Regions from separate parts of the Homo sapiens genome. Here region 1 is linked to region 2. A link means that fine-mapping ties the variant in region 2 to the expression of a gene that starts in the linked region. Tissue or cell type: whole blood. Region 2 holds a variant in brackets; the other region holds the start of a gene. All regions are shown on one strand. Distances are from middle to middle.

Region 1 (5,105 bases), 57 kb before region 2:
TAGTTTTGTACCAATGTTAGATGTTTATTTTTGCCAAACATACCAGGATTAAGCAAAATGTTAACATTAGGGGAAACTGGGTGTAGGGTCTACAGAAATTCTCCCATTGTCTCTGTAACTTTTTCTAAAACTATTCAAAAATAAAAAGTTTTTTTAAAGCCTATCGAGGCCAGGCATGGTGGCTCACACCTGTGATCCTAGCACTTTGGGAGGCTGAAGTGGATGGATCACTTGAGGTCAGGAATTCAAGACCAGCCTGGCCAACATGGTGAAACCCCATCGCTACTGAAAATACAAAAATTAGCTGAGCATGGTGCCCTGCCTGTGGTCCCAGCTACTAGGGAGGCTGAGGCAGGAGAATAGCTTAAACCCAGGAGGCAGAGGTTGCAGTGAGCCGATACCGCTCCAGTGCACTCCAGCCTGGGTGACAGAGCAAGACTCTGTCTCAAAAAAAAAAAAAAAAAAAAAGCCTATCGAGAGTTTGATTGAAAATGTATTAACTGTATGGATTAATTTGAGGAATGTGACATCTTTACAATATTAACTCTTCCCACTCAGGGACATATTTGGTTTGTCTTATATCCTACTATAAAGCAATAAGGTATTCATTATGTAAGTCATTTATGTAAGGGATGTTGTCCATTATATTTTCCATTTGTTTGCTGCTGGAGACATCTATACACATATGCACAGTTTTTTAAAACAGGCCACCACTTGAGTTTTTCTGGTATACGTAATATATTTATAATTATTCTTTCAAATATTTATCATTGCCTAGCTACAAAACCTAGAACAAATAAGGTATGCTGTTTGTTTTATTAAGAGGTTTTAAAAATCAGGAATGGGGCCAGGCACTGTGGCTCATGCCTGTAATCCCAGCACTTTGGGAGGCCAAGGCCGGTGGATCACAAGGTCAGGAGATCCAGACCATCCTAGCCAACATGGTGAAACCCCGTCTCAACTAAAAATACAAAAATTAGCTGGGTATGGTGACGCGTGTATGTAATCCCAGCTACTCGGGAGGCTGAGGCAGGAGAATGGGAATTGGAGAGCATGCCACTGCACTCCAGCTTGGGCGACAGAGCGAGACTCTGTATCAAAAAAAAAAAAAAAAAAAAAAATTAAAAAAAAAGAAAAGAAAAGAAACTGGCTGGGTGCGGTGGCAGGAGAATCGCTTGAATCCGGGAGGCGGAGGTCACGGTGAGCCGAGATCGCGCCATTGCACTCCAGCCTGCGCAACAAGAGCGAAACTCTGTCTCGAAAAGAAAAGAAATATTTTGTCCCACATTCTGTACTAAGAGCTTCACACATATTATTTTATTTAATTATCAAAACAACTCTAAGGGTAGACAGGTGTAGATCCAGGTTTTGTGGGGACTGGAATTAAACAGCATTAAGGGCCTTCTGATTTTTAAAAAATTACAAAATTATGAACACAAAATTAGGTATGACGATGGTTATTTAGAATGAGAAAATAAATTGTAAATTATAACAAATGAAGAGCTCTCTGGCATTTAGGAGAAATGCTCCCTGGTTGCAACTCCCCACCTGTTAGACTACAAATCCCAGCGACCCATGCAAGTGAACATAAATTTCATTAGCTTCACCGTAAAGTTGTCTGGCGGCGGGTCGGGGGTGGGTAGGAAGAAGTGTTATCTCCATTTTTAGGTTGAGCAAATCACTCAGTATTGCAGAGTGGGAATCTGAAAATTATGCAAATAGACTCTAGAGCCCTCGCCTTTACCCCCACCCTGCTTCTTGTCAATATCACTGAGTGTGCATGAGGGTCTCGTTAACGACGGCTGAGGGGGAGACGATGAAGTAAGAGGAAAGGCTGAACAAAGGGCAAGAGAAAGGCAGAAAGAAGCTCCTAAAGAAAGCTGGACGCAATTGGGCTCCGCAACCCTAATGGAGAAATGCGCCTTAGGAGGGAAGGGGAGAAGTTTAAGGGGAAACAGGTAAAATGAGGCAGAAGTTGAGCAAGTTAGTCAAACCCTAAATTCTTTTACTTATTTACAAAACAGCCTGGCGCGGTGGCTCTCGCCTGTAATTCCAGCACTTTAGGAGGCCGAGGCAGGAGAATCGCTTGAGGCCAGGAGTTCAAGACCCCCCTCTCTGCAAAAAACAATTTAAAAATTAGCCGGGTGTGGTGGTGCGCAGTTGCGGTCTCAGCTACTCGGGAGACTGAGGCGGGAGGATGGCTTGAGACCGGGAGGCGGAGACTGCAGTGAGCTCTGATCGCGCCACTGCACTCCAGCCTGGGTGACAGAGCCAGACCGTCTCTAAAAATAATAATAGCAATAACAAAATAAAAATAAATGTACTGCACCCAACTATGACCCAGGAGTGGCATGGGTTTCCGCAGCGCAGCGGCCGCGCCTGGGCGCCCCAAGCAACACAACCAGCGCTGTCAGGAGGCGAATAGGAGCCAGGACAGAGAGCTGGGGAGGCCACTGCTGTCAGGCGAGGGATAAGAAGGCCGTCCGCGGCGTCACTGACGGGGCTGAAGGAACACCAGGAGAAGAGTGGCAGACAGCTCCGGAGCCGCGCTGCCCGGGCGACGCCGGAAGATGGGCCTCCCAGCGGTCTTCCTTTCAGCCAATGGCCGCGAGATGCGCCGTCCGAGGGTGCCCCGCGCGGCACAGGGAGGGAACAAGCAGCCCATCGGGTGCAAGAAAGCACTATCTTTCTAGGTGACTATGCGAACTACCAGGGAAGTGTAGCTAGGGACAGGCTTCTCTGCCCGCGGTTAACCTAACTCAGTGCCACCACGCCTTTAACCTGAAGCCAGGGAGCACGGCTGCCCTCAGTAAAGATGGCTGACTGGCGCGGAGAAAAAGCCGGAAGCAGCTGGGCTTTGCAGGGAGCCGACTGAGCGCTGCGGGGGCGTGGCCTGGCGGTGGAGGGGCGTGGCCAGCCGCCGTAACCTGGGTTTGCGATCTTTGAGGCGCGCGCACCGCACCCGGTCCCGACTCTGTGGCTTCCTGGGGGCGGGTTCGCCGTCGGCCCCGCCCCCGCCCAGGTGTCTCCCTTTGGGAAGCTGCCCGCCGAGTCTCCGAGATTTGTCCCTGGTGGTCCCGCGGACCCCTCGTCCCTCCGCAGTCTCCGGCTGGCAGCGATGGAGGGCGCTGGGGAGAACGCCCCGGAGTCCAGCTCCTCTGCCCCTGGGTCCGAAGAGTCTGCCAGGGATCCACAGGTGCCGCCTCCGGAGGAAGAATCGGGGGACTGCGCCCGGTCCCTGGAGGCGGTCCCCAAGAAACTCTGTGGGTATTTAAGTAAGTTCGGCGGCAAAGGGCCCATCCGGGGCTGGAAATCCCGCTGGTTCTTCTACGACGAAAGGAAATGTCAGCTGTATTACTCGCGGACCGCTCAGGATGCCAATCCCTTGGACAGCATCGACCTCTCCAGTGCAGTGTTTGACTGTAAGGCGGACGCTGAGGAGGGGATCTTCGAAATCAAGACTCCCAGCCGGGTTATTACCCTGAAGGTAAATTCCTGCAACGACTTTCTCCTTTCCAGCGGCGTGAGGTCCCCTTTTCGCAGGGCAAGGCTGGGCGCGAGTGTGAGGTGGACACAGTAAATTTGGAGTGTCGGTGACGACAGTTCCAAGAACTTTGTGCTTTGCAAAGTGCATTCCCACCCATTTCCTCATTGGGTTCCCACAAGGCAGGGAAGACAGACCCATTTTACGGATCAAGAAACTGAGTCAGAGGGAGATGAAAGGACTGGCTCGAGGTCCATGCGTCTAGAGAGTAGGGTAGCTTGGAATCCCATAGTCTTTCTACCTCTCAGTGCTGAATCAAAACTTTTACTTTTGGGTGTGCCTGACAGTGCAGTTACCTTAACTTTCTTACCTGGGACCTAAGTAAGTCAAAATATGGTCTTTGCAATCCTCTCTCAAGGCCAGGATTCTGATTCCCGTTTCTTGATATTTTGGCCAAGGTCAGTGAATGCTGAGAAGAGACTGGCAGGGATTAGGAAAATAAACACTTAGGTTTCACTGATCAGCCTAGATTGTTCATCTAGGCATGCTTAAACCTGTTTTCCTATCAGCAGCAAGGGGTAGGTTTTATCATCATGTGTAACTGAGAAAGCCTAAAGCAGTAGAAAGGCCACATTCTTTGAAATCAGACGGGCTTGGATTCAAATTGTACATTTGCTACTTACTAGCTGTGTGACCCTGGACAAGTTACTTAACCTCTCAGAACCTAGGTGGTTTGTAAGCATTTGACACATCACAGGCATGTACAAATTGTTGAATTAATTGCATCACCTAGAATACAGCCTGGTACCTAGTGGAGTACTTAATAATTTTTTGTTGCATAAGCACACATGCACACACAAGGTGATGGAACCAAGGTCAGAGTGCTAATGTCAAGAGGAGGTGTCCCATAACTTAATTGGAAAGACAGATCTGGGCTAAGTGTTCTATGGGCATCAGAGAAGAATGTGCCAGGAGATAGCCTTCCCCACCCCATCCCCATCTGTCCACCCCTCCAACCCCAACTCCAGCTAAGTGGGTATCTGTGGATGCCCACGTGTTCAGTTCTCCTTTACTGACTGGACTTGGCGGGTGACCAGGCTGGGGGACTTGGTTAAAATAATGAAACTCAGGAATCCCTGGCCAGGGAAGGCATTTTCGAGGTCATGTGGTTCCCGGGTCTATGTGTCTCTTCCACAGGTTGACTGCTGTATGCAGGGTCTTCAACACATGGTCTTTATAATAGTATTCCATTGTTCCTGGCTCTGCGCTTGGCGGGGTGTGGAGCTAATGCACCCCCACCCCTGGTTCTCTGACAGCTTAAAGTCTGGTGGGAGAGACTGAGGGAGAACCTGCATGCACCCTGAAATGTTCTGTAGAGACATGTGATAAGTCTGTGCAAGAAGGTGTGGTGACAGGAGGAGTCAGTTCCACCAAGTGGAAGGGGCTAGCCAGAAAGGCATCTGGAGGAGGGACACACCCAAGGCTTGAAAGAAGAAATAGGTGGCAAGCAGACAAGAGGGAGAAAGGTATTCCAGGCCAAGAGAGCACCGTGAGCAAATTAGGAAACCATGATACAGCCCTGAGTGTCCAGGCAAATCACATGAGCCAGAAAAACAGAGGG
Region 2 (5,191 bases):
GCCAGCAGGATCAGCTGGCCCCTGACCTCCTGCTTGGCTCAAGGGATTCAGATGGGTGAGCGGGCGGAGAACGTGCCAGCCCACATGGCTCCACTGCAGAGCCCAGTGCCCCAGTCCAGAGGACTCTGGCCTATATTAGGAGCAGCGGAGTGATATGATGCTGTACCTGACTCCCAGCTAGACTGGCCCCTGGCTCCCCGAGGTGTCTCCTGGGCAGGAAAGGACCTGCCCAGAGCAGCTTCAGGATTGTGTGTGGACTGACTGGGTAGGAAGGCTGGGCAGGGAGGGAGGCAGCCCTACGCTGGGGCTGCAGATGACAGGCCCTCTCGCTGGCTTCCAGGTGGACCAGCGGGTGCTCCAGGACCTGCTCTCGGAGAAGCTGCCCAGGCTGATGGCCCATCTGGGGCAGCACCACGTGGATCTCTCCCTCGTCACCTTCAACTGGTTCCTCGTGGTCTTTGCGGACAGTCTCATTAGCAACATCCTCCTTCGGGTCTGGGATGCCTTCCTGTACGAGGGGACGAAGGTAGGGTGCAGCCAGGGGATGGGCAGGGGGCCCCTGAGCAAGTCCCTTCACCCATCTGCGTCTTGACTCTGCCCCTGGAGAATGGGAAGACAATGCTTACTTGTCAGAGCTGTTGAACGTCTCCTGAGAGCATTGTCAACTGCAAAATGCTTTGCATGTATGAGAAGTAGTGGTTCTGCCTCTGAAGTTGGGGGATTTCCTTTCCGTGGAGAGGAGGTGTGAGCATGATCAGAGAGGCACATCCCTATGCTGTCCTTGCCCCCTAGTCACCTGGGCCCTCCTTTTCTTCCTCCTGTTTGGACTAAACCTTGGATTAAGAGATCGGAGCTCAGGTCTGGACCCAGCTCTGTACTGACCTTGCCCAGAGACCTTGGGCAGGTCCCCCAACTCAGCCCTAGTTTACACCTCAGTTTACAAAGCACCCACAGATTTCTCATTTCTTTCTTTCTTTTTTTTTTTTTTTGAGATGGAGCCTTGCTCTGTCACCAAGGCTGTAGTGCAGTGGCACGATCTCCGCTCACTGCAACCTCTGCCTCCCAGGTTCAAGCAGTTCTCCTGCCTCAACCTCCGGAGTAGCTGGGATTACAGGCATGCAACACCATACCTGGCTAATTTTTGTATTTTTAGTAGAGATGGGGTTTCATCATGTTGGCCAGGCTGGTCTCGAACTCCTGACCTCAGATGATCCACCCGTGTCAGCCTTCCAAAGTGCTGGAATTACTGGCATGAGCCACTGTGTCTGGCCTGTCATTTCATCTGGTTCTTGCCAAAGCCCCACGTAAAGATACAGATTAACTCCATGAGATTCAACAGGGGCCGTGCCTCACCCACAGTCATGGGACAAGACAGGCTAGAGCCAGGACTCTGTCCAAATCCCCAGATTTCAAGCTGTGCGTCCCTTCCCCCGCCCCCCCACCACCCCGCCGGGGTATTCAGTCTCCCCCAGCCCCCTGGAGCCTATCCCCACACATTGTGCCTCCAGGCCTCAACTTCCGCAGCCAGTCCAGGGTCTTCCATACTGCCCAAGTCTGTCAGGTTCCCTCCCTCCGGGGATGACCTGCCTGGCCCCCCCATGCCCTACCTGAGCCCCCACTCTACCCCCAGGTGGTGTTTCGCTATGCCTTGGCCATTTTCAAGTACAACGAGAAGGAGATCTTGAGGCTACAGAATGGCCTGGAAATCTACCAGTACCTGCGCTTCTTCACCAAGACCATCTCCAACAGCCGGTGAGGAACCCCCACCCCCTGCCACTCCCACCACTCACACACCCCCAAGGACACATAGCAGAGGGGAGGCTGATGTTTGCCAAGTAGAGATTGGTAAGTGACGCTGATGCTCGTATTATAGCTTAGAAATCTTTGGGGAAGTCTGACTGTCTGAGTGATATGTCTGCCCCCTTAACATGGCATTTGAGGCCTCCATGGAGTTTCATTTTTTGCCCACCTTCCCCTACCCTGAACACCCATGGCCAGTGATCCTGGAAAACAGAATTATACGAGTTCCTAGGACAACCCCACCTTTGGGCTTTTGCTCTTGCAGTTTCTTTTACTTAGAATGCCTCCTTGCCACTTCCACCACCACTATCTTCTTTGCCTGGTCACCTTTTATTCATTCCTTAAAACTCAGCTCACACGTGGGTCACCTCCTCCAAGAAGCCTTCCCTGACCAGCCCTTCCCTGCTGGGTTAGGTGTCTTTCTTCTGATCTTCCTCCTGCCTCAGTACATATCTCTGTGGGTGGAAATCATCTTATTCATTGTTTCCTCCTGAGGGCAGGGGTCAGGGCTCAGCCACAAAGGCAGAAGGAATGCGGGGATGTCTGTCTGGGAGAGCC[G/A]GGTAAACGCCGGCCAGGTGGGGTGACGTGCTCTGGGCTGATTGTGCCCTCCTCCCAGGAAGCTGATGAACATCGCCTTCAATGACATGAACCCCTTCCGCATGAAACAGCTGCGGCAGCTGCGCATGGTCCACCGGGAGCGGCTGGAGGCTGAGCTGCGGGAGCTGGAGCAGCTTAAGGCAGAGTACCTGGAGAGGCGGGCATCCCGGCGCAGAGCTGTGTCCGAGGGCTGTGCCAGCGAGGACGAGGTGGAGGGGGAAGCCTGACTTGGCCACCTCCCCTCCCCACAGCCTTCCTCACCCTTGGCTGGCAGACCCACTGGAGGTCAGGCACGGACCAGTGGCCCAGCCCTGGGTGTCCCATCACCATGTGACCTTGGACATGTCCCTTCCCCTCTCTGGCCCTCAGTTTCCCCACTGGGACATTGTGTGCTGCAAAGCCATTGGTTGGGCTACTTCTTCATAGGCACTTACTTACCCAGGGATGCCACCCTTTCGTCACCTCTTCCACAGAGCACTTTGGCATGTAAACAAGCAAGAGCACTGCCTCTATAGGGTAACCTGGAACATTCTCTAGGTTATATCAATATAAAACAATGTAAATGGTGGAAATCATTCATAAGCTTTGGAACTTAAACAGTTCTCAGTTACCAGTTGTTCCTGGATGGGCCCACGGTGCCAGGGTGTGCCACCACCAGGCTTCCAGCCTAGGGCATCTCTGGCTGCTATTTCTGTGAGCGTCTGCAGGGCCAGCCCCTGCCTGGTTCCCTGAGATGTTAGGGTTTTGTCTTTCTGGGTAGCAGCTCCTTTTCAATACTGCCTGGGTCTGCATTCCGGGACGCTCTCCGTGTACTGAAGCCTGTTTCCAAAGCCCGGCCCCTGTGCCCTCCTTTCTGCTCACAGCCCATTTTGGGGGGATCCCAGGGAAACCCCCTGTGCACCACCACCAGGAACTTGGTGTGGGGGTTGGGCAGAGAGCCCTGGGTCAGGTGCCCCACTTGTGACCTCCCACTGCCCACTTCACAGGCTGGGGCACGGAGGGTTACCTCTCCTCTGAAAAATGGGTGGTTGGGAGGATGGGAGAAGGTGGGAAGTAGGGACTGCTGCAGCGCAAGCCAGGGCTGGCTCGTCACAGCACCCACCGTGGCCCCAACCCAGCGTCAGCCTCCTCCAGGTCCCTCCTCAGCAAATAGAGGCTTCAGTCTGTCCCCACCCGAGGCAGGGGGTCAAGGCCATACCAGTGACTTTGGCAACTCATTTCTCAGCAAAACCTGTGTCTGTGCTGGCCTAGCCTTGAGTTGGCTGTCTTTGGTATGAAGGACTGGGGGTTCTCACATGGAAGCCTCCTCTCTGGAAAACCACCGAGGATTAGGGGACGCTGCCCTGGAACCTCCTGGCTCTGATCTGAGGCTCCCATCCAGGCTGGGGAGGAAACTTTCCCCATCACTGGGGACCATGGACGGGCCCCGTGGTGGCCCTGGCTGGTCCCTAGCCCCACTGTCACCCACAGGTGTGAATTTGAGGGGTTGGCCCACCAGGCTCCCAGTTCCCTACACTGCACCGCCTGTGCAGCCTCAGGGAGGAGACGCTCAGGGTTCCTCTCCTCCCTGTCCACGTGGGCTCCTGGCTGGCCCGAGGGCTCCACTTTTCTGTGAACACCCTGCATTGGGGCTTGACTGCCTTTCTCATTGCTAAACTTTTTTCATTCGCTAAGGCCCTTTCAGCACCAAACTGTTTATGAAGTGTGATGGTGGCATGAGGGCGGCCTGGGGGTCCCAGCTGCACCCTGGACAAGCTAGATACTGCGCCCCTAAGTTGGTCATCGGGATGATGAGAGGTCCAGCCCCATGGGGCTCCCAGGAGGGCTAAAGCAGGTAAACTGGTGCAGAGCCTGGAGCCTGGCACAGAGGAAAGTGCCACCGATGGGAACGAGCAGCCCTATTTTTTTTTTTTTTTTTGAGACGGAGCCTCCCTCTGCTGCCAGGCTGGAGTGCAGTGGCGCAATCTCGGCTCACAACAACCTCTGACTCCCTGGTTCAAGCGATTCTCCTGCCTCAGCCTCCCGAGTAGCTGGGATTACAGGTATGCGCCACCACGCCCAGCTAATTTTTGTATTTTTAGTACAGACAGGGTTTCACCATGTTAGCCAGGATGGTCTCAATCTCCTGACCTCGTGATCTGCCTGCCTCAGCCTCCCAAAGTGCTGGGATTACAAGCGTGAGCCACCGCACCCGGCCTGAGCAGCCGTCTTACGAAGGAAACACCACCTGCAGGGCCCTGAGGCCTGCAAAAGCCCCAAGGCTGCCTGGGAGCTCTGGCCCAGGCGGTCCCTCTGCCTTTAGCCTTGAAATTCACATTCCCTCTTCAGCAACAACAATCAAAAAAGAATCAGGCAACGGGCACAGGGGCTATTGGATAAATGGCAGCCCACCTCTACCTTTTTCCCTCCCCTTCCCTCCCCCTCCTCCACCTCCCCTTCCCTCCTTCCTCCCCGTCCTCCCTCATCCCCCTTTTTCTCTTTCCCCATTCTCCTCTCCTTCCCTTCTTCCTCCTTTCTCCCCTCTTCCCCCCTTTTCTTCTTCCCTCTCTTCCCCCTCTCCACTTCTCTTCCTCTCTCCTCCGTCTCCCCACATCCCCCCAACCCCAGGCAGAGGAGAAGCTCTGCTCAGAGCTGAGTGTCTGTGCTCTTTCCCTCCCCTCCTGTGGAGAGGGGTGGGTGGTACTTTGTATTTGACCCAGCATAATGTAACCTCTGGTTCCTACCTGGCTGCACCTGAGAATCACCTGAGTAGGCCAGGCGCCGTGGCTCACGCTGGTAATCCCAGGACTTTGGG

Evidence for each region. PIP is the estimated chance that this variant, and not a neighbour inherited with it, causes the effect.
Region 1: it holds the start of TBC1D2, and the variant in region 2 is fine-mapped to the expression of TBC1D2 in whole blood (TOPMed, PIP above 0.99).

The regions. Positions count from the first base shown.
Region 1 is chr9:98,253,555-98,258,659 of GRCh38, reverse strand. It overlaps TBC1D2 (TBC1 domain family member 2), which reads left to right and starts at 3,011. Exons shown (of 13, transcript NM_001267571.2): 1 at 3,011-3,487. The coding sequence starts at 3,119. RefSeq lists an enhancer at 2,287-2,776 and a silencer at 2,947-2,996.
Region 2 is chr9:98,196,814-98,202,004 of GRCh38, reverse strand. TBC1D2 (TBC1 domain family member 2) reads left to right here. Exons shown (of 13, transcript NM_001267571.2): 11 at 341-526; 12 at 1,631-1,752; 13 at 2,417-2,994. The coding sequence ends at 2,624. Among named protein-coding and RNA genes, the nearest start is that of CORO2A, 6.8 kb to the right of the region's middle. RefSeq lists enhancers at 1-274, 580-629, 275-776, 2,017-2,884, 2,885-3,752. The variant G/A (reference allele first, on the strand shown) is at 2,359.